4 linked regions of the Homo sapiens genome follow. The protein of the gene in region 1 purifies or fractionates together with the protein of each later gene. This does not show direct contact. Each region holds a gene or a part of one and is shown in the gene's direction. Other genes may lie near its edges.

Evidence for each region. The genes of interacting proteins can lie anywhere in the genome.
Region 2: the proteins of MAP4K3 (region 1) and ZNF423 purify together in Homo sapiens (affinity purification with mass spectrometry; one large-scale study listed by BioGRID and IntAct). This does not show direct contact.
Region 3: the proteins of MAP4K3 (region 1) and DBNL purify together in Homo sapiens (affinity purification with mass spectrometry, with the first as the bait; one study listed by BioGRID). This does not show direct contact.
Region 4: the proteins of MAP4K3 (region 1) and SH3GL3 purify together in Homo sapiens (affinity purification with mass spectrometry, with the first as the bait; one study listed by BioGRID). This does not show direct contact.

What each region holds. Positions count from the first base shown.
Region 1 is NC_000002.12:39,248,766-39,252,285, reverse strand, and holds the end of MAP4K3 (mitogen-activated protein kinase kinase kinase kinase 3), read left to right. Parts: intron 1-400; coding exon 401-456; exon of another isoform or gene 457-461; intron 462-1,580; coding exon 1,581-1,668; 3' UTR 1,669-3,020; downstream 3,021-3,520. UniProt on the Homo sapiens protein: Serine/threonine kinase that plays a role in the response to environmental stress. Appears to act upstream of the JUN N-terminal pathway.
Region 2 is NC_000016.10:49,492,613-49,496,112, reverse strand, and holds part of ZNF423 (zinc finger protein 423), read left to right. Parts: intron 1-3,500. UniProt on the Homo sapiens protein: Transcription factor that can both act as an activator or a repressor depending on the context. Plays a central role in BMP signaling and olfactory neurogenesis. Associates with SMADs in response to BMP2 leading to activate transcription of BMP target genes.
Region 3 is NC_000007.14:44,054,702-44,058,201, forward strand, and holds part of DBNL (drebrin-like protein), read left to right. Parts: intron 1-2,055; coding exon 2,056-2,202; intron 2,203-3,080; coding exon 3,081-3,158; intron 3,159-3,427; coding exon 3,428-3,500. UniProt on the Homo sapiens protein: Adapter protein that binds F-actin and DNM1, and thereby plays a role in receptor-mediated endocytosis.
Region 4 is NC_000015.10:83,611,341-83,614,840, forward strand, and holds part of SH3GL3 (endophilin-A3), read left to right. Parts: intron 1-73; exon of another isoform or gene 74-77; coding exon of another isoform or gene 78-247; intron 248-3,500. UniProt on the Homo sapiens protein: Implicated in endocytosis. May recruit other proteins to membranes with high curvature.

The sequences.
Region 1 (3,520 bases):
CCTGTTACACTACGTGGCAGCCTTTTTAAGTAAAAGAAGCAGATCTAAGTAGCTTACTGCTGCCAGTAACCTTGCCATTAGCGTTAACATAAATGATGAAAGTTTCTAATAAATAAAATGGATTTAGTGCTTTGCTTTTAAGTTTTTCCCTTGAAGTCTTATGATTTAACAAGGAAATCATTTTCCTTTGCCTGCATTTTATGATTAACTCAAAATTAACCACATTTCCCCTCGACTAACAAATTGATGTATCTACATGCTGACTTTAACAAACAGTCATGCAGGAATATGTTTTCATTTTTAGCGATCATGTTTCTTTTCTGTTGAATTATAATGAAGTGCCCATTAAAAATTTTGTGTCTTTAATTTCAGAAATTAAATTTGTGTTTTAATTGAACAGGTAACACAAGAAATTTCAGATAGCACAAGAATTTTCAGGCTGCTTGGATCTGACAGGTATGAAAACGGACTGTATTAAATACACAGTACTAAACGTGTTTTATAGATCCAGCATGAAACAGATTTCTTTTTCAAGAGAATTGAAATGTCTGCAATATGTTCAACATTGAATTTTTCACACTATAAGAATTCACAGGTCAGAAAGTTAGCCTTTGAAAATGTACCTGATCTTCCAAGTAACAGGAATGTATGGATCTGTCAGTACTAGTTTCCATTAAACATACTGACATCTGATTTGCAGCAGAAGAAAGAGGAAATACCATATGTTAATGAACAGAACTTTGTGTTGTTAATGCCGATAGGATTTTGGAGACCTGTTCTGATTGACTGTAAGACATTGGTCAGGGTGGTGGGAGAGATTATAAAGTTATAGGAAATAGACACAAACCTTCTTGGAAGGCCAGAAGGTTTGCATAGCTTCAGTAAAAGATTTGGCTGAAGGCAGCTGAATTCTCTTAAAAGCTTAGGGCATAGATACATAGGAATGTAGAGGAGTTTATCTAAATAGCTTGTTTACTCATGTTGTCCTAAAACCAACCTTTGATCATGCGGGCAGGACTGCTCTTTCCTGGGGAGGGCAACCTGATAAATTACCCACAAGTAGGTTGACTCAAAGCCTTTGTCATTAAATCTGTGCTGAATAAATGCCTGCAGGGACAGCTAGTCAGGGCACACGGCCACTACAACTCTTTCTGTGAGCGCCCTGGCCCCCTAGCCAGTCTTTCACTGAATACCAGTGTCTGGGTACGTTATTCATCCATTGTGCAGCGTGGGTCTCTGGGTCAGACCCTGGCAATTTAGCTTCTGGTTCTTGAACTGCAAATCGTTTTTAGAACTTGTAATAAGAATTAAGTTCCCCCAAATAATTTCTAATATAGGTTTCTCCCCACTTCTGACTCTTAGAAGAACACTGGCCTAGAGGTGGGAGGTAGTGGACAGCAAAATTACTTCCCAGAGCTAGAACTGGCCCTGTAATCACAGTGATAGCAAATGATTTCTGCCCACGATCAAATGAGCAGCATTTATAGAGGCACATATTGGAGAAGCAATGGAAAATTTGGGAGCTAACATTAATTTTCAGGAATAACTTTGTTTTGTTATATGTTTTTTATTACTTTCAGGGTCGTGGTTTTGGAAAGTAGGCCAACTGATAACCCCACAGCAAATAGCAATTTGTACATCCTGGCGGGTCATGAAAACAGTTACTGAGAATTGTTGTGCTTTGACAGTTAACTCTAGAAAGAAAGAACACTACCACTGCAACATTAATGGATGCTTGAAGCTGTACAAAAGCTGCAGTAACCTGTCTTCAGTTACTTTGTAATTTATTGTGGCATGAGATAAGATGGGGAAAATTTTGTTTTAAGTGGTATGGATATATTTAGCATATTGAACCACACAAGTGCTTAATTCATTGTTATGTAATCTTTGTACATATAGGCAGTATTTTTTCTGTGAAACTTCATATTGCTGAAGACATACACTAAGAATTTATGTAGATAATGTACTTTTATGAGATGTACAAGTAAGTGTCTTATCTGTACAGATGTAAATGTTGATGAAAATGCAATTGGGGTTAATATTTTAAGAATTCTTTAGTATATTCTTGGGTGTGGCTATATTACAAAATGGGATGCTGGCAATGAAACAATACATTTAACACTATTGTATTTTTATTATATGTAATTTAGTAATATGAATATAAATCTTGTAACTTTTAAAATTGTAATGGAGGCTGTAATCATTTTATAATCTTTTTAATTTTAATGCAAGTACACTGGTGTTTATATTTGCACAAAGTATTGATATGTGATGTATTAAGTCACAAAAGTAAGCTGTGACATTGTCTATAAGCATTTGGCTCCACAAATGTATTTGGATTGTTTTCTATGTGAAGCAAACCAATTATAATTAACCACATGTTGTAGTAACTGGTCTTTTTATATTTAAGCAGAATCCTGTAAGATTGCTTGTCTTTGCTTAAAAACAATACCTTTGAACATTTTTGAATCACAGAATAGCGGTACCATGATAGAATACTGCAATTGTGGTCAGAATTACAGTATGCACAAAGAATTAATTAGCATTATTAAAGAGTCCTCACTAAACATTTCATATGATCACACTGAAGAACTGTAACATTCCATAGAGTGAAGTGGTTCAAATTTCTCTTGGAATTTTTACTTTTGTTGGCCTTATTTTATGATCCTTTTCATATTTCTTTTGACTTAGAGTATTAATACATGGCCAAAATAATTTAGTTACTACCTCATACAAACAATATAATGGTTACTACACATCACAGGAACTTAGTTTTGGTTTAAGTCATTTTTGATTGCTTTTTTCCAATGGAATATGTATATACCAGGTTTTAGCAAAATGCACACTTTTGGCTCTTTTTGGTATATGTTCTTTATATTTTAATGTGAGTATATACACTAAGAACAAACTAAATTGTGATTTATGATCTTCATTTATTTTAATGATAATGGTTTTAAAATATGTTCCTGATTGTACATATTGTAAAATAAACATGTTTTTTAACATGCTGTTGTATAGTAGCTTGTCATCTGGTTTAATCTGTATATAGTAACACTAAAATATATTAAGAGGGGAAAGCTTTATTTGTTTTGTAGTTAAATTCTTAAGTATTGAATTTTGGTCCCTCAAATCATGATTTTTATTTGATATGGGGTTTCAGTTTCATGAAGCATTAATATTTCCACACAGGAGAAAAGGGCATCTTTTGCAGAAACTTCGACTTCCTGATAAGAAAAGTCAAACATTCATAGTTTTCTGGTTAGAGGCAGGGGTCCACAAACTACAGTCCTCAGACCAATCCAGCCTACTGCCTGTTCTTGTAAATAAAGTTTTAATGGAGCACAACACCACGTATTCACTCACATGCTGTCTATGCTGCTTTGGTGCTACAATATTTGAGTTGAGTGGCTTCTGAAACACTATATGGTCTGAAAAGCCTAAAATTCTTACTTTGCTGACCCTTTACAGAAAAAATGTGCTAGTGCCTGGGTTAGAGAAAGTAAGGAAGCATTGGGAAATG
Region 2 (3,500 bases), on another chromosome or scaffold:
CCAGGGCAGTGGCTAGCACCAATGGAGCACTTGCCAAGGACAAGGCAAGGTGCTAGGACTTTACAGACACTGTCCTCAGAGTAGCTGAGAGCCAGGAGAGGCAGCTAGCAGGGTGTGTGGAGAAGCTCTTTTGCTTTATGCTGCTGGCATGCTTAAGCCCCTCACGTCTCTCCCACTTGACATGGTGATGGATAGGTATCAAAGGGAGACCAGGCAGGGTCCCACGCCTAAGCAACAGAGAATGGAGCCAAGATCTTGAGAAGCAATCCTGGGCTTCACACTAGGGAGAGGCACACAGTGTTCCTGTTTGTGACTGTGTTGGGCATGGAGGTGGGCTGAGCCAGGGCCCCCTCCTGGGGCGCGCAAAACCAGCATCAGACCCCAGCTGAACCTCCAAGGAGCCCATTCCCTCTAGTGTGTGGCGGTGCTTTGGGAAGGACAGTGTAGCCACCAGGCTCTGTACTCTGGCCCGCTCCTTCCATGCACAAAACATTACCCTGGATTGGGTTCAGGATCAGGATCATTTTGCTGCTGAATTCCCAGCAACAAGCATAGTGGCTCATTGGCTCAAAGACGAATGAATGAATGAGCAACCATGAAATGAATGCTGGGCTTCTTTCCTTCCAGAGGCTGAGGGTGTGTCAGGGAACCAGTTCCTGAGTGCTCTGCTGACGATTTGCACAGAGAGGGCTCTTTTTGTGGGTCTCACCAGGACCCAGGGTAGGCCTGCCCCCAGCATAGGCAGCACACAGGTTTCTGTGCCCGGGCCCATGCCATCCCCTTGGCTATCACTGTCTTGTGTCCCTGGCCCCGTGTGCCAGGCAGAGGCCCCCAAAACAGGCTGTACCAGAAACCTCCATCCAGGAGAGCACACGAGCTCTGCTGAGTGGATGGATTGAGGCTGCAAACCATTGCTGCCCACCCCCTCCTGCTCTCCCGTTTTATTTTCCTCACCTGCTTCTCTGGCCCACACCTGTGTCTCCCTGGCAGGCAGCGAGGCCGAGTGGATGCCAGGCCTCCCTCTAGGCATTTTCCAGTCCTTCCCTGGGCCCCTGTCTCCACCCCCAGCCTTTATGGTGGTGGGAAGTGTTCATCTGTGGGGTGGGTAGCATCTTTAAAAAACGATTTTCTTCCTTCTCTAAAGGGGCTAAATATAGCACAGGCATAAACAGAGAAAGAGACATTAAGGCTGAATGCCCTTGTGAGAACTATGCTGGATGGAAAGAACTCTTTAAGAAGGTTTGCTGAACCTCCCCACGTTCCTCAAACCACAGCTTCTAGCTGTGGGGGACGGACCACGGGTTCTTTCACGGTTATTGAACTGTGCTGATTGCAGTAGCTGTCCAGAGCTGCTCTGTGTCCTGGTGTTGGGCGACTGGTAAGTCTTGGGGACAGGGGTCCCACCACCTCCTCTGCCTGTTGAGATACTGCCCTTGGCCTATGGAGGAGCCAATGCCCTCCTTGGCTGAGCACCTGGGCACCTCTGGGCTCCCCACCACCATCACACAAACTGATCGGGTGACCTTGACCAGTTTCCCTAGCTGAGCTGCCAGCTGCACCATTAATCCCACAAATGTTTGGGTGTCTGTGTCTAGCCCCTCTAAATCAGGCCCCTCGAGGGGTAGGCCCAGCTGGTGTCTTCCCCTCCCCCTCACTGTGCCAGTGCAGAGCAGAGCATCCAGCAGGTGCTTAATAATGTAGTGCTGAGTGAATTCTGGTGCCTGGTCCCCTTGGGGCATCAAGTTTTGACATTTCCATCTGCTGTGACATCCTGGGCTTTTGTTCCTGTCACAAAACTTCAGGGAAGGAAGTTTTATCCTTCTGTCTCAGAACCCTCTAGGAGGAAGTTCTTTCTTGAGTGTAACCTCAGAGCCCCCTGCTACTGCTATTTAAGTGGGCAGGCACACTGTGGCTTTTCCTGGGGAATGGCATAGGCATTCTGGAGTTTTCCTCACCAGTGGTCCCAGGTGTGGGTTCCAGCCTTCATCATGTCTGCACCAGCAGTGCCCTGGTGAGCCAGTGTGGGCCATGTGTGTCACACTGAGCCTGTTCTTGGCATCCTGGCAACAGGCTGCTTCATTCTCCAGAGATCCCAGACACCCCCTGTGCCCATGTTGGTAGTGGGTGGTCCTTGGGGATTTTGTGGAGATCGAATATCATGTCTGGTTTTCTGTGGCCTGTGGAACAAAGTCCATGTTTGTTGGTACTCAAGGCCTCCACTGTCCGTAGGCCATGTGCCCACCAGCCTTCCTGTGACTTCTGTGCTGGGACCTGTGCCTGCATCGCCACTTGGATTCTAGGCTCCACACCTCCGTCTCTGCTATTCTTTCCTCTTGGAATGCCCTCTCCCCTTTCCACATATCCACATCCTATCCATACATTCATTCGTTTTCTTTCCATTGACTCATTCACAAATACTGCCTGAGTGTCTACTTTGTGCCAGGCCCTAGGAACCATAATTTGAGGACAAGAAAGAGCTGTCCATGTCTCCCTTCCTCATGTCCCCTCTCTTCCTCCTCCCTGTCCTCCCCCTAATAAAGAATGACCCACCCACACCAAGATAGCAGGGGTTTTTGACTGGCGGTTGGCAGGGTGTGAAAGTGCAGACCTCCAAGTTGCTCCTGGGCAGCTGTGCCTGCTGGGGATTGGAGGCCCAGGCGTATGGTCAGGACAGTGCATGCCCAGCCCTGGGTCCTGAGAAAGGAGGTGCCGCCACCCTGTGTGCAGCTCAGCAAAGGAGGTCAGTCTAGCTCATGAGAGGTGCGTGGCTGTGTGGGAGGTGGGCTGCAGGTGCCTGGAGAGGTCTGCAGGGATGGGAAGTGATCCATGTGCCTAGAGGACTCAAAGAGCAGCTTGGTTGGGAGGGAGGAGAAGGGAGGCGGGAACTGAGTCAGCAGAGGCTTGAAGGTAGCAGGAGGATGGCTGTGTAGAGTGTGGATTCGGCTCCCCACAGGACTAGCTGGCTGTCCCTGCACAAGTACAGGGAGAGGTGCCACGGCTGGAGGGTGCGGGTTCCCATGGAAACCGCCTGCATCCCATCTGTGGCCTCAGACAACCTGCCTGGTGCCTCTGGGTCCCTGACGCCCCCGACCGAGGTGTCAGGCCCGGCCGGCAGAGGTGGCACTGTGTCTGGTGCAGAATGCGGGTGATTTGCAGACTGCGGTGCCCATGGGGTGCAGGCCCTGGGAAGCCTGGCTCCCCTGAAAATCCCCTTGCTCTAGTGGATTCCAGCCATCTGGTTCAGTGCCCGGTGCTTCCAACCTGGGTGACCTTGGGCCTGTAATTTTTGCCTTCCTAGGCCTCGGTGTCTTCATCTTAAGAAGTCCCACCTCGCAAGGCTGTTGTGAGGATTGAAAGAGCGGTGCCTGCCACGGCACAGAGCACGCATGCCCACCAAGCCCCGGCCGTGCGCCTGCTCCGCCCGCATGAGCACGAGGCTGTCGCTTGGCGCTGTGGGCATCTGCTGGGAGGCAGGCGCGGGCTGCCTCTTCCCGGCCGGG
Region 3 (3,500 bases), on another chromosome or scaffold:
CCTTCTGTACTATTGAATACTAGAATTTATTCCTTCTATTTAACTGTACTTTTGTACCTGTTAAGCAACTTCTCTTCATTTTCTCTCCCCCATGCCCTTCCCAACCCCTGGTAACCAGCATTCTACTCTCTCCCTCCATGATACCCACTTTTTTAGCTCCCACATGAGTGAGAACATGCAATACTTGTCTTCTGTGCCTGGCTTATTTCCCTTAACATCATGACCTCCAGTTCCATCCATGTTGCTGCAAATGACAGGATGCCATTCTGTTTTATGGCTGAATAATATTCCCTCATGTTTATATACTAAATTTTCTTTACCCTTTCATCCATTGATGGACGTTTTGGTTGATTCCGTATCTTGGCTATTGTTAATAGCGCTGAACTTCAGAGTTGGATATATCCCCAGCAGCTGGATTGCTAGATCATATGGTAGTTCTGCTTTTAGTAGGACTAAAATACTGTTTTAAAAACCATACTGTTGTCTAGGCGCGATGGCTCACGCCTGTAATCCCAGCAGTTTGGGAGGCCAAGGTGAACAGATTACCTGAGGTCAGGAGTTCAAGACCAGCCTGGCCAACATGGTGAAACCCCGTCTCTACTAAAAAAATACAACAATTAGCCAGGTGTGGTGGCGGGCACCTGTAATCCCAGCTACTCAGGAAGCTGAGGCAGAGAATCTCTTGAACCTGGGAGGTGGAGGTTGCAGTGAGCCGAGATTGTCCACTGCACTCCAGCCTGGGCAACAGAGTAAGACTCTGTCTCAGAAAAAAACCCAAAAAACCATACTGTTTTTATAATGGCTGTACTACTTTACATTCCTACCAACAGTGTATAAGAATTTCCCTTTCTCCACATCCTTGCTAGCATTTATTTTTTATGTTTTTTATAATAGCCATTCTAACTGTGGTGAGATGATAGCCCGTTATGGTTTTGGTTTGCATTTCCCTGATGATGGTTAGTGATGTTGAGCATTTTTTTGTATGTAGTTAGCCATGCGTATATCATCTTTCGAGAAATATCTGTTAAGGTCTTTTGCCCATTTTAAAATCAGATTATTATTTTTTTGCTACTGAGTTGTTTGAGTTCCTTATATATTCTGGTCACTAATTCCTTGTCAGATGGATAGTTTGAAGATATTTTCTCCCATTCTGTAGGTTGTCTGTTTACTTTGTTGATTGTTTCATTTGCTGTGCAGAAGCCTTTTAGCTTGATGTAGTCCAATTGGTTGATTTTTGCTTTTGTTGCCTGGGCTTTTGAGGTCTTAACCCAAAAAAAATCTTTGCCCAGATCAATGTCCAGGGGCATCTACCCAGTGTTTTCTTTGAGTAGTTTCATAGTTTCAGGTCTTACATTTAAGTCTTTTTAACCCATTTTGAGTTTTTTTTTAATATGGTAAAAGATGAAGATTTAGTTTCATTCTTCTGCATATGGATATCCAATTTTCCTAGCCCTGTTTATGAAGGAGACCGTCCTTTCCCCAGTGTATGTTCCTGTCACCTTTGTTAAAAATGAGTTGGCTGTGTGTGTGAGTGCTCTGTTAGTTTCCATTGTTGTGTCTGTGTTTATGCCTGTACCATGCTGTTTTGCTTACTGTAGTTTTGTAGTTTAATTTGAAATCAGGTAGCATGAAGCCTCCAGCTTTGTACTTTTTGCTTCAGATTGCTTTAGCTATTCAGGGTCTTTTGTGGCTTCCAGATGGCATTTAAAATTAGTTTTCATTGATTAGAAGGAAGGCCTTTGATGCAAATTATGCCTGGGCTGTCTATTGATACACAGCAGGGAACAGCTACAGAAGGAACCACTGGATAGCACAGTGGAGGTCAAGGGTCTCACGTGAACTGGGACAAGAATGAGGGGTTTGCTCCAAGTTGGTTTGTTTGAGCCCTTGAGGGGAACTCGTGCCTCAGTTTTCAGCAGCCAGACAGGTGCCTTCTAGTTTCCTGATTCCAGTCCTGTGTGGTATAGTAGTGGCCCGTGCTGTATGGACTGACAGGAGTTTGGCCCATCTCCTGGGCTTGCAAAGCCCTTCTTTCAAGTGCTGCTCCTGCTGCAGGGGGCCCATGTGACCATCAACGCACGGGCCGAGGAGGATGTGGAGCCTGAGTGCATCATGGAGAAGGTGGCCAAGGCTTCAGGTGCCAACTACAGCTTTCACAAGGAGAGTGGCCGCTTCCAGGACGTGGGACCCCAGGCCCCAGTGGTGAGTGCTGCTTGCCCATCGCCAGCCCTTTTGTTGCTCAGGGCCTGAGGCAGGGGGCCAGGAATATGCACTTCCCAGCACCCGGGCTGGCTGGGCCCATGCCTGCTTAGTTTCTGCAGATGGTAACCCCTGAGCTGTGGTGATTGCCCACTGACCAGATGAGCAGGAATAGCCCTCTGACCTTGCCTAGGGGTTGGACTAGCTGTTCTGGAGCCTTCCTCTGGAGCCCAGCCTGTGTGGTCAGAGTGGAGGCTCTGCAGCATGCATGGCTATGATAGTCTGGCTGCCCTCAAGGTCATGGCACTGGAACATCTTGGGCTGCCCCTGGAGGTAGCCACCGTGGAGGAACTAAAGGAGGCATCAAGGCGGAGCCTGAAACCAGAGCAGGCCCCTTGGAGTCACGGGAGATACCTGTGGGCCTGTGGCCCCAGTGCTGTGTGGAGCTGATGGCTGGGAGCTGCGTCCGCATGCGTGTGGTTGGACGTGATTCCTTGGATGCTCTTGTGGTAGTCAGCTGTCTGAGTGCCCCTGGTCAGAGGCCTGCCTCAGAACTGCCCAATGTCTAGGAGTCTGCAGGTGGGGTATGGGGGCCTTTCTTGCCCTGGCCCCCATCCATGAGGGCGAGAGACCACCAGAGACCCCTCTAGTGTTGTCTGGGATTGAGCATCCCCCTTGGGGCAGTGTCCTGGGCTTCTTTCAGGTCATCTTGGTGTGTGTCTCCTTGAGGGTCACTGGGCAGTGCTCTGCTGCCTCTGCTGGGTCCAGTCCTAGCAGCACTCACCTGTGCTGTCGCAAGTTTAGCGTATTCTCTCCTTTGGTGCCTGTGGGCCTGGCCTTCCACCTGGGTCCAGGTCTCTAATGAGTGCTGTCCCCTACAGGGCTCTGTGTACCAGAAGACCAATGCCGTGTCTGAGATTAAAAGGGTTGGTAAAGACAGCTTCTGGGCCAAAGCAGAGGTGAGTGCTGCCCCGGGGCATGCTGGGCACGTGGGAGTGTTCTGCTTGCTGTGGCTCATCTTTCCTCACAAGTGAGCTCATGCAGCATCCACTCTCCTTGGTGCCCATTACAGATGGTCACACTGAGGCTCGGGTAAGTTAAGCCACAAGGCTAATGATCGACTGGCTCTGGTGCCCGTCTTTGGCCATGTGCCTAAAACTCAGTCCTGGGCAGGGGATTAGGCTGAAGTGGCAGCATAGGGCTGAGCGGGCAGTGGCTCTCCCTGCAGAAGGAGGAGGAGAACCGTCGGCTGGAGGAAAAGCGGCGGGCCGAGGAGGCACAGCGGCAGCTGGAGCAGGAGC
Region 4 (3,500 bases), on another chromosome or scaffold:
AAATAATCTTTGTTTCAATACTTTAACAAGGAAGACTGTGTTTTCCCACCTCTGCTCTCACGTTTCGTTGAAGCCAGGTCTCAGGAGTAAGAGAAAATCAACACAAGGCCACTTGGGGAGGGCAGTGCTGGCTGAAGCCGTCTCACTGGACAGCCCAGGGTCAGGGGTTTCAGCCGCCTGTTCAAGGACACCGAGATCCACAGCAGCCACCTGGGAGCTCCTACACAACTATGCCCAGCGATTCCAGGTGCCAGCTACTGAATGTGAGAGAGCAAGGAGGTGGAGGTGGATGAGGAACTGCCAGCTGCAGGACCACAGGGGCAAGGGGAAGGGGTTGTCAACAGGGATGGGACGCTGGGTAGGATCAGTCTTTTCTTACGAGACGTTTTCAGCTGAGGTGCTGGCTTCTGATGGTGGGAAACCAAGCATTCAGGTCCCTTGGAGAGGCTTATATCTAACAGTTGGAAAGCCTCCATTGAGGAAATCCAGCCCATTCTGCCTGGACTTTGGGGCTCCATCCATGGTGACTTTTGTGTCAAGGGAAAATTCACACACTGTCCCTCAGGCGGGCAGCAACTTAATTTCTCTTTAGCTGAACTGAACTTGCTTGCAAGCCTCTATGTAGACCAATGGCGGAAACAACTTAATCTTTTTTCCATTTCTGTTGTTGACCAAAAAAAAAAAAAAGCTTTAAAATCTTTTTTCCATTTCTTCTAATGGTGGAAAAAAGCATAATCTTGCCATTTCAAGGTAGCTCAGTCTCTTCCAATAGAAAGCATAGACTATCCGTTTATGACTTAGGCGATTCCAGATTTAAACACAGTCAATTCAGAGTAGAAATTCCCTATCAGGGCTGTTGGTTTTTCTTGAAGGTTCTCTCCTCCCCCTGGTCCAGTCCTAAGATGTTGCCTAGATGTGAGGGGGGTTTACAGAACATCATGGTGGCAGGTAGGGAGGCTCACTTCCACAGCTGAGGTGACTCGTCACAGGAGGCCTGGGGCCTGGGCCAGGATCTGTGCTGACATCTGTGGCTTAGGCCTCCCTCTCTGGGTTGCTGAATCTCTGTATTTGGAGCCGTGTGTCACTGCCCCCAGGCAGCCTCTGGCCTCAGTGGCCCCTCAGCACTTCCTGCTGGGGACTTGAGGGAATTTGTTCACAGTTCACAGGGAGCGACCAGCCTTCAGGCCCCATCTGTACTTAGTGACACCACATGGTTTCCACTGGGCTCCAGCCCCCGTGTTAGTCCAGAGAACTTTGACAGCTGCCTTCTCCCGGGATTTCTGTGGAAAGTGGAGTCTAAGACCCCCTTCCCCAGGGTGGCATCCAAGGAGCATTTCAATTTTCTTGCTCACCCTCTTCTCACTGCAGGCCCCTTCCCTGCTTCCCTGCCTCCAGAAAGAGCTTGTATCTCTTCTCTGGATGGCAGGAAACAGCTCCTCCCTCTCCATGGCTTGTAATCAAAATGCTAGGCTCTGAGTTCTTCAAGCTCTAGTTCTTGGAACCCAGAAGTTTCTCTCTCTCTCTCGCTCTTAAATCTTATAAAAGCCTACCTGGCTCTAGCATGAAAGCCTAAAAGCCTTGGCTTTCACAATGTTTCACAACTGAAATGGTATTATTTGGGAATTTAAAAGCTAAACATTGACTGCTTTGTTCATGTCTGGGTTCCACCCTCCTCCTCAAGTAAGGGAGGCAAGCCCCAGCTCCTTGGGTTGAGGGCCCCAGGCAACAGAAATGACCCAGAATGAAAAATGCATTGATACTTCAGAATATCGTCCGGCTGCATGTATAATTCAGGGCAGCCAGTCTGAGCTCTGGTTGGGGTGGATTTACCAACTGCCTACTTAGCAAGTGCCAATTGCTCTTAGTGTTGTAGCCAGCCCAGTGGTGGCTGGAGGGCCAGGTGCACTTGTACTGCCTGAGTCAGGGAGTTCTTGAACAGGGTCTTTCTACTCAGTGGTCTCTGGAGAGATGCCCTGCCTTGGGTTTAGGTGCTGATGGAGTGTGATATGAGTGCTGGTCTCTTTCCAGCTCTCAGAATATCAAAGTGGGCAATGTGGCAGTGGTTCCTTGCCAAGAATGAATGACATGAGAAGTGAGTAATGCAGCTTTTCCATGATTTGTTCTGTGTGTGTGTGCAGCAAGAACCCAGGTTTACACATGGAGGTGGTGGCCTGGTTTACACATGGAGGTGGTGCATACACTTGGACAAATGTATGCTTGCCACTAAGCATTTTGGTCATTGCAGGTGGCTTATAGAGTAAATGGGAGGGAAATATATAAATCTATCTATCTATCTATCTATCTATCTATCTATCTATCTATCTATCTATCTATCATTAGCCCTGTAATCAGTGTGTCAGCCTATGAAATGTCTTGGCAACCCTTAGTGGTGTCATAGATCATGTACGAGGTGACATGGAGCAAGGTAGCTGATGGCCTAGGGTCTGGAGCCCTCCTGTTTCTGGCTCAGCCAGTAGCCCTGGGGCCAGGCCATTATGACCTCTCAGAGGCATTGATGGCTTCTCTTGGAAAAGGAGAGGACTCATGGAGGACTGCCAAATTCCATTCTAGCATTAACATTCTGTGTTCAAGGAAATGCTTCCCGAGACTACCATGTGGTTTGGCACCTGACCCCTTCTCTGTTAAAAACTAGTCTAGTAGTGGGAGAAATGCTAAAAGAATAATAATTATTTTTATAATCCACATTAAAACAGTTATACATTAATAAAGTAGACTTTGACTCACAGCTCAGGTTGCCCTTGGTTTTCAGTGCTCAGCCCCCACCTGCCCACCCATATACACACTCCATGACCCAAGGAAAATGAAAAGTTCTGTATTGTAAGCCCTCTATTCCCCATGCTTTGTTTGAAATCATTGAATGTTGTTCTGTTCAAATTCAAAATAGTGAACTAATCCCCAATATTTACAGCCTTCCACCCCCTAGCTTTCATCATTATGACAAGAGGAATACACAGACTTAGGCAGGGGTGGGGTCTGTCACGGAAGGAGCTGTCTAGAGGCTAGAAACATCATGTAGATCATAGAGGTTATATTGCAGGTGGGTTCAGAGTTTCAAAGTCACGACCCAGTACAGGAGCTGCCTCCCTGAAGAGGAAGAAGAGCTCCCCTACCATTACCCCCTTCTCTTTCCTCGCCAGCTGAGTCTCTTTAACCTTTAACGCTTCCTTAGGGGAAGGAGAGGGGAGGATCATTTCACTGGTGGTTGTCAACCTACCCTGGACATAGGAAGGACCTGAGAAACAAAAAATACTGATGCCGGGTTCACCCTGGGCAGTGGGCTGTTTAGTGTGCCACCAAGTTGAGAACCACTGCCATAGGAAGGCAACAGGAAGCCACCTTGGTACAACCTGGGGAGCTCCGCTGATGAAGGCTCCTTAGAGTGCCCTGTTCCTTAGAGATATAGGCGCTACTCCATGAATTTCAAGCTGTCTAAACAACTATAATATAATCCTTCTCACAACAGGAATCTCCATTGCCCC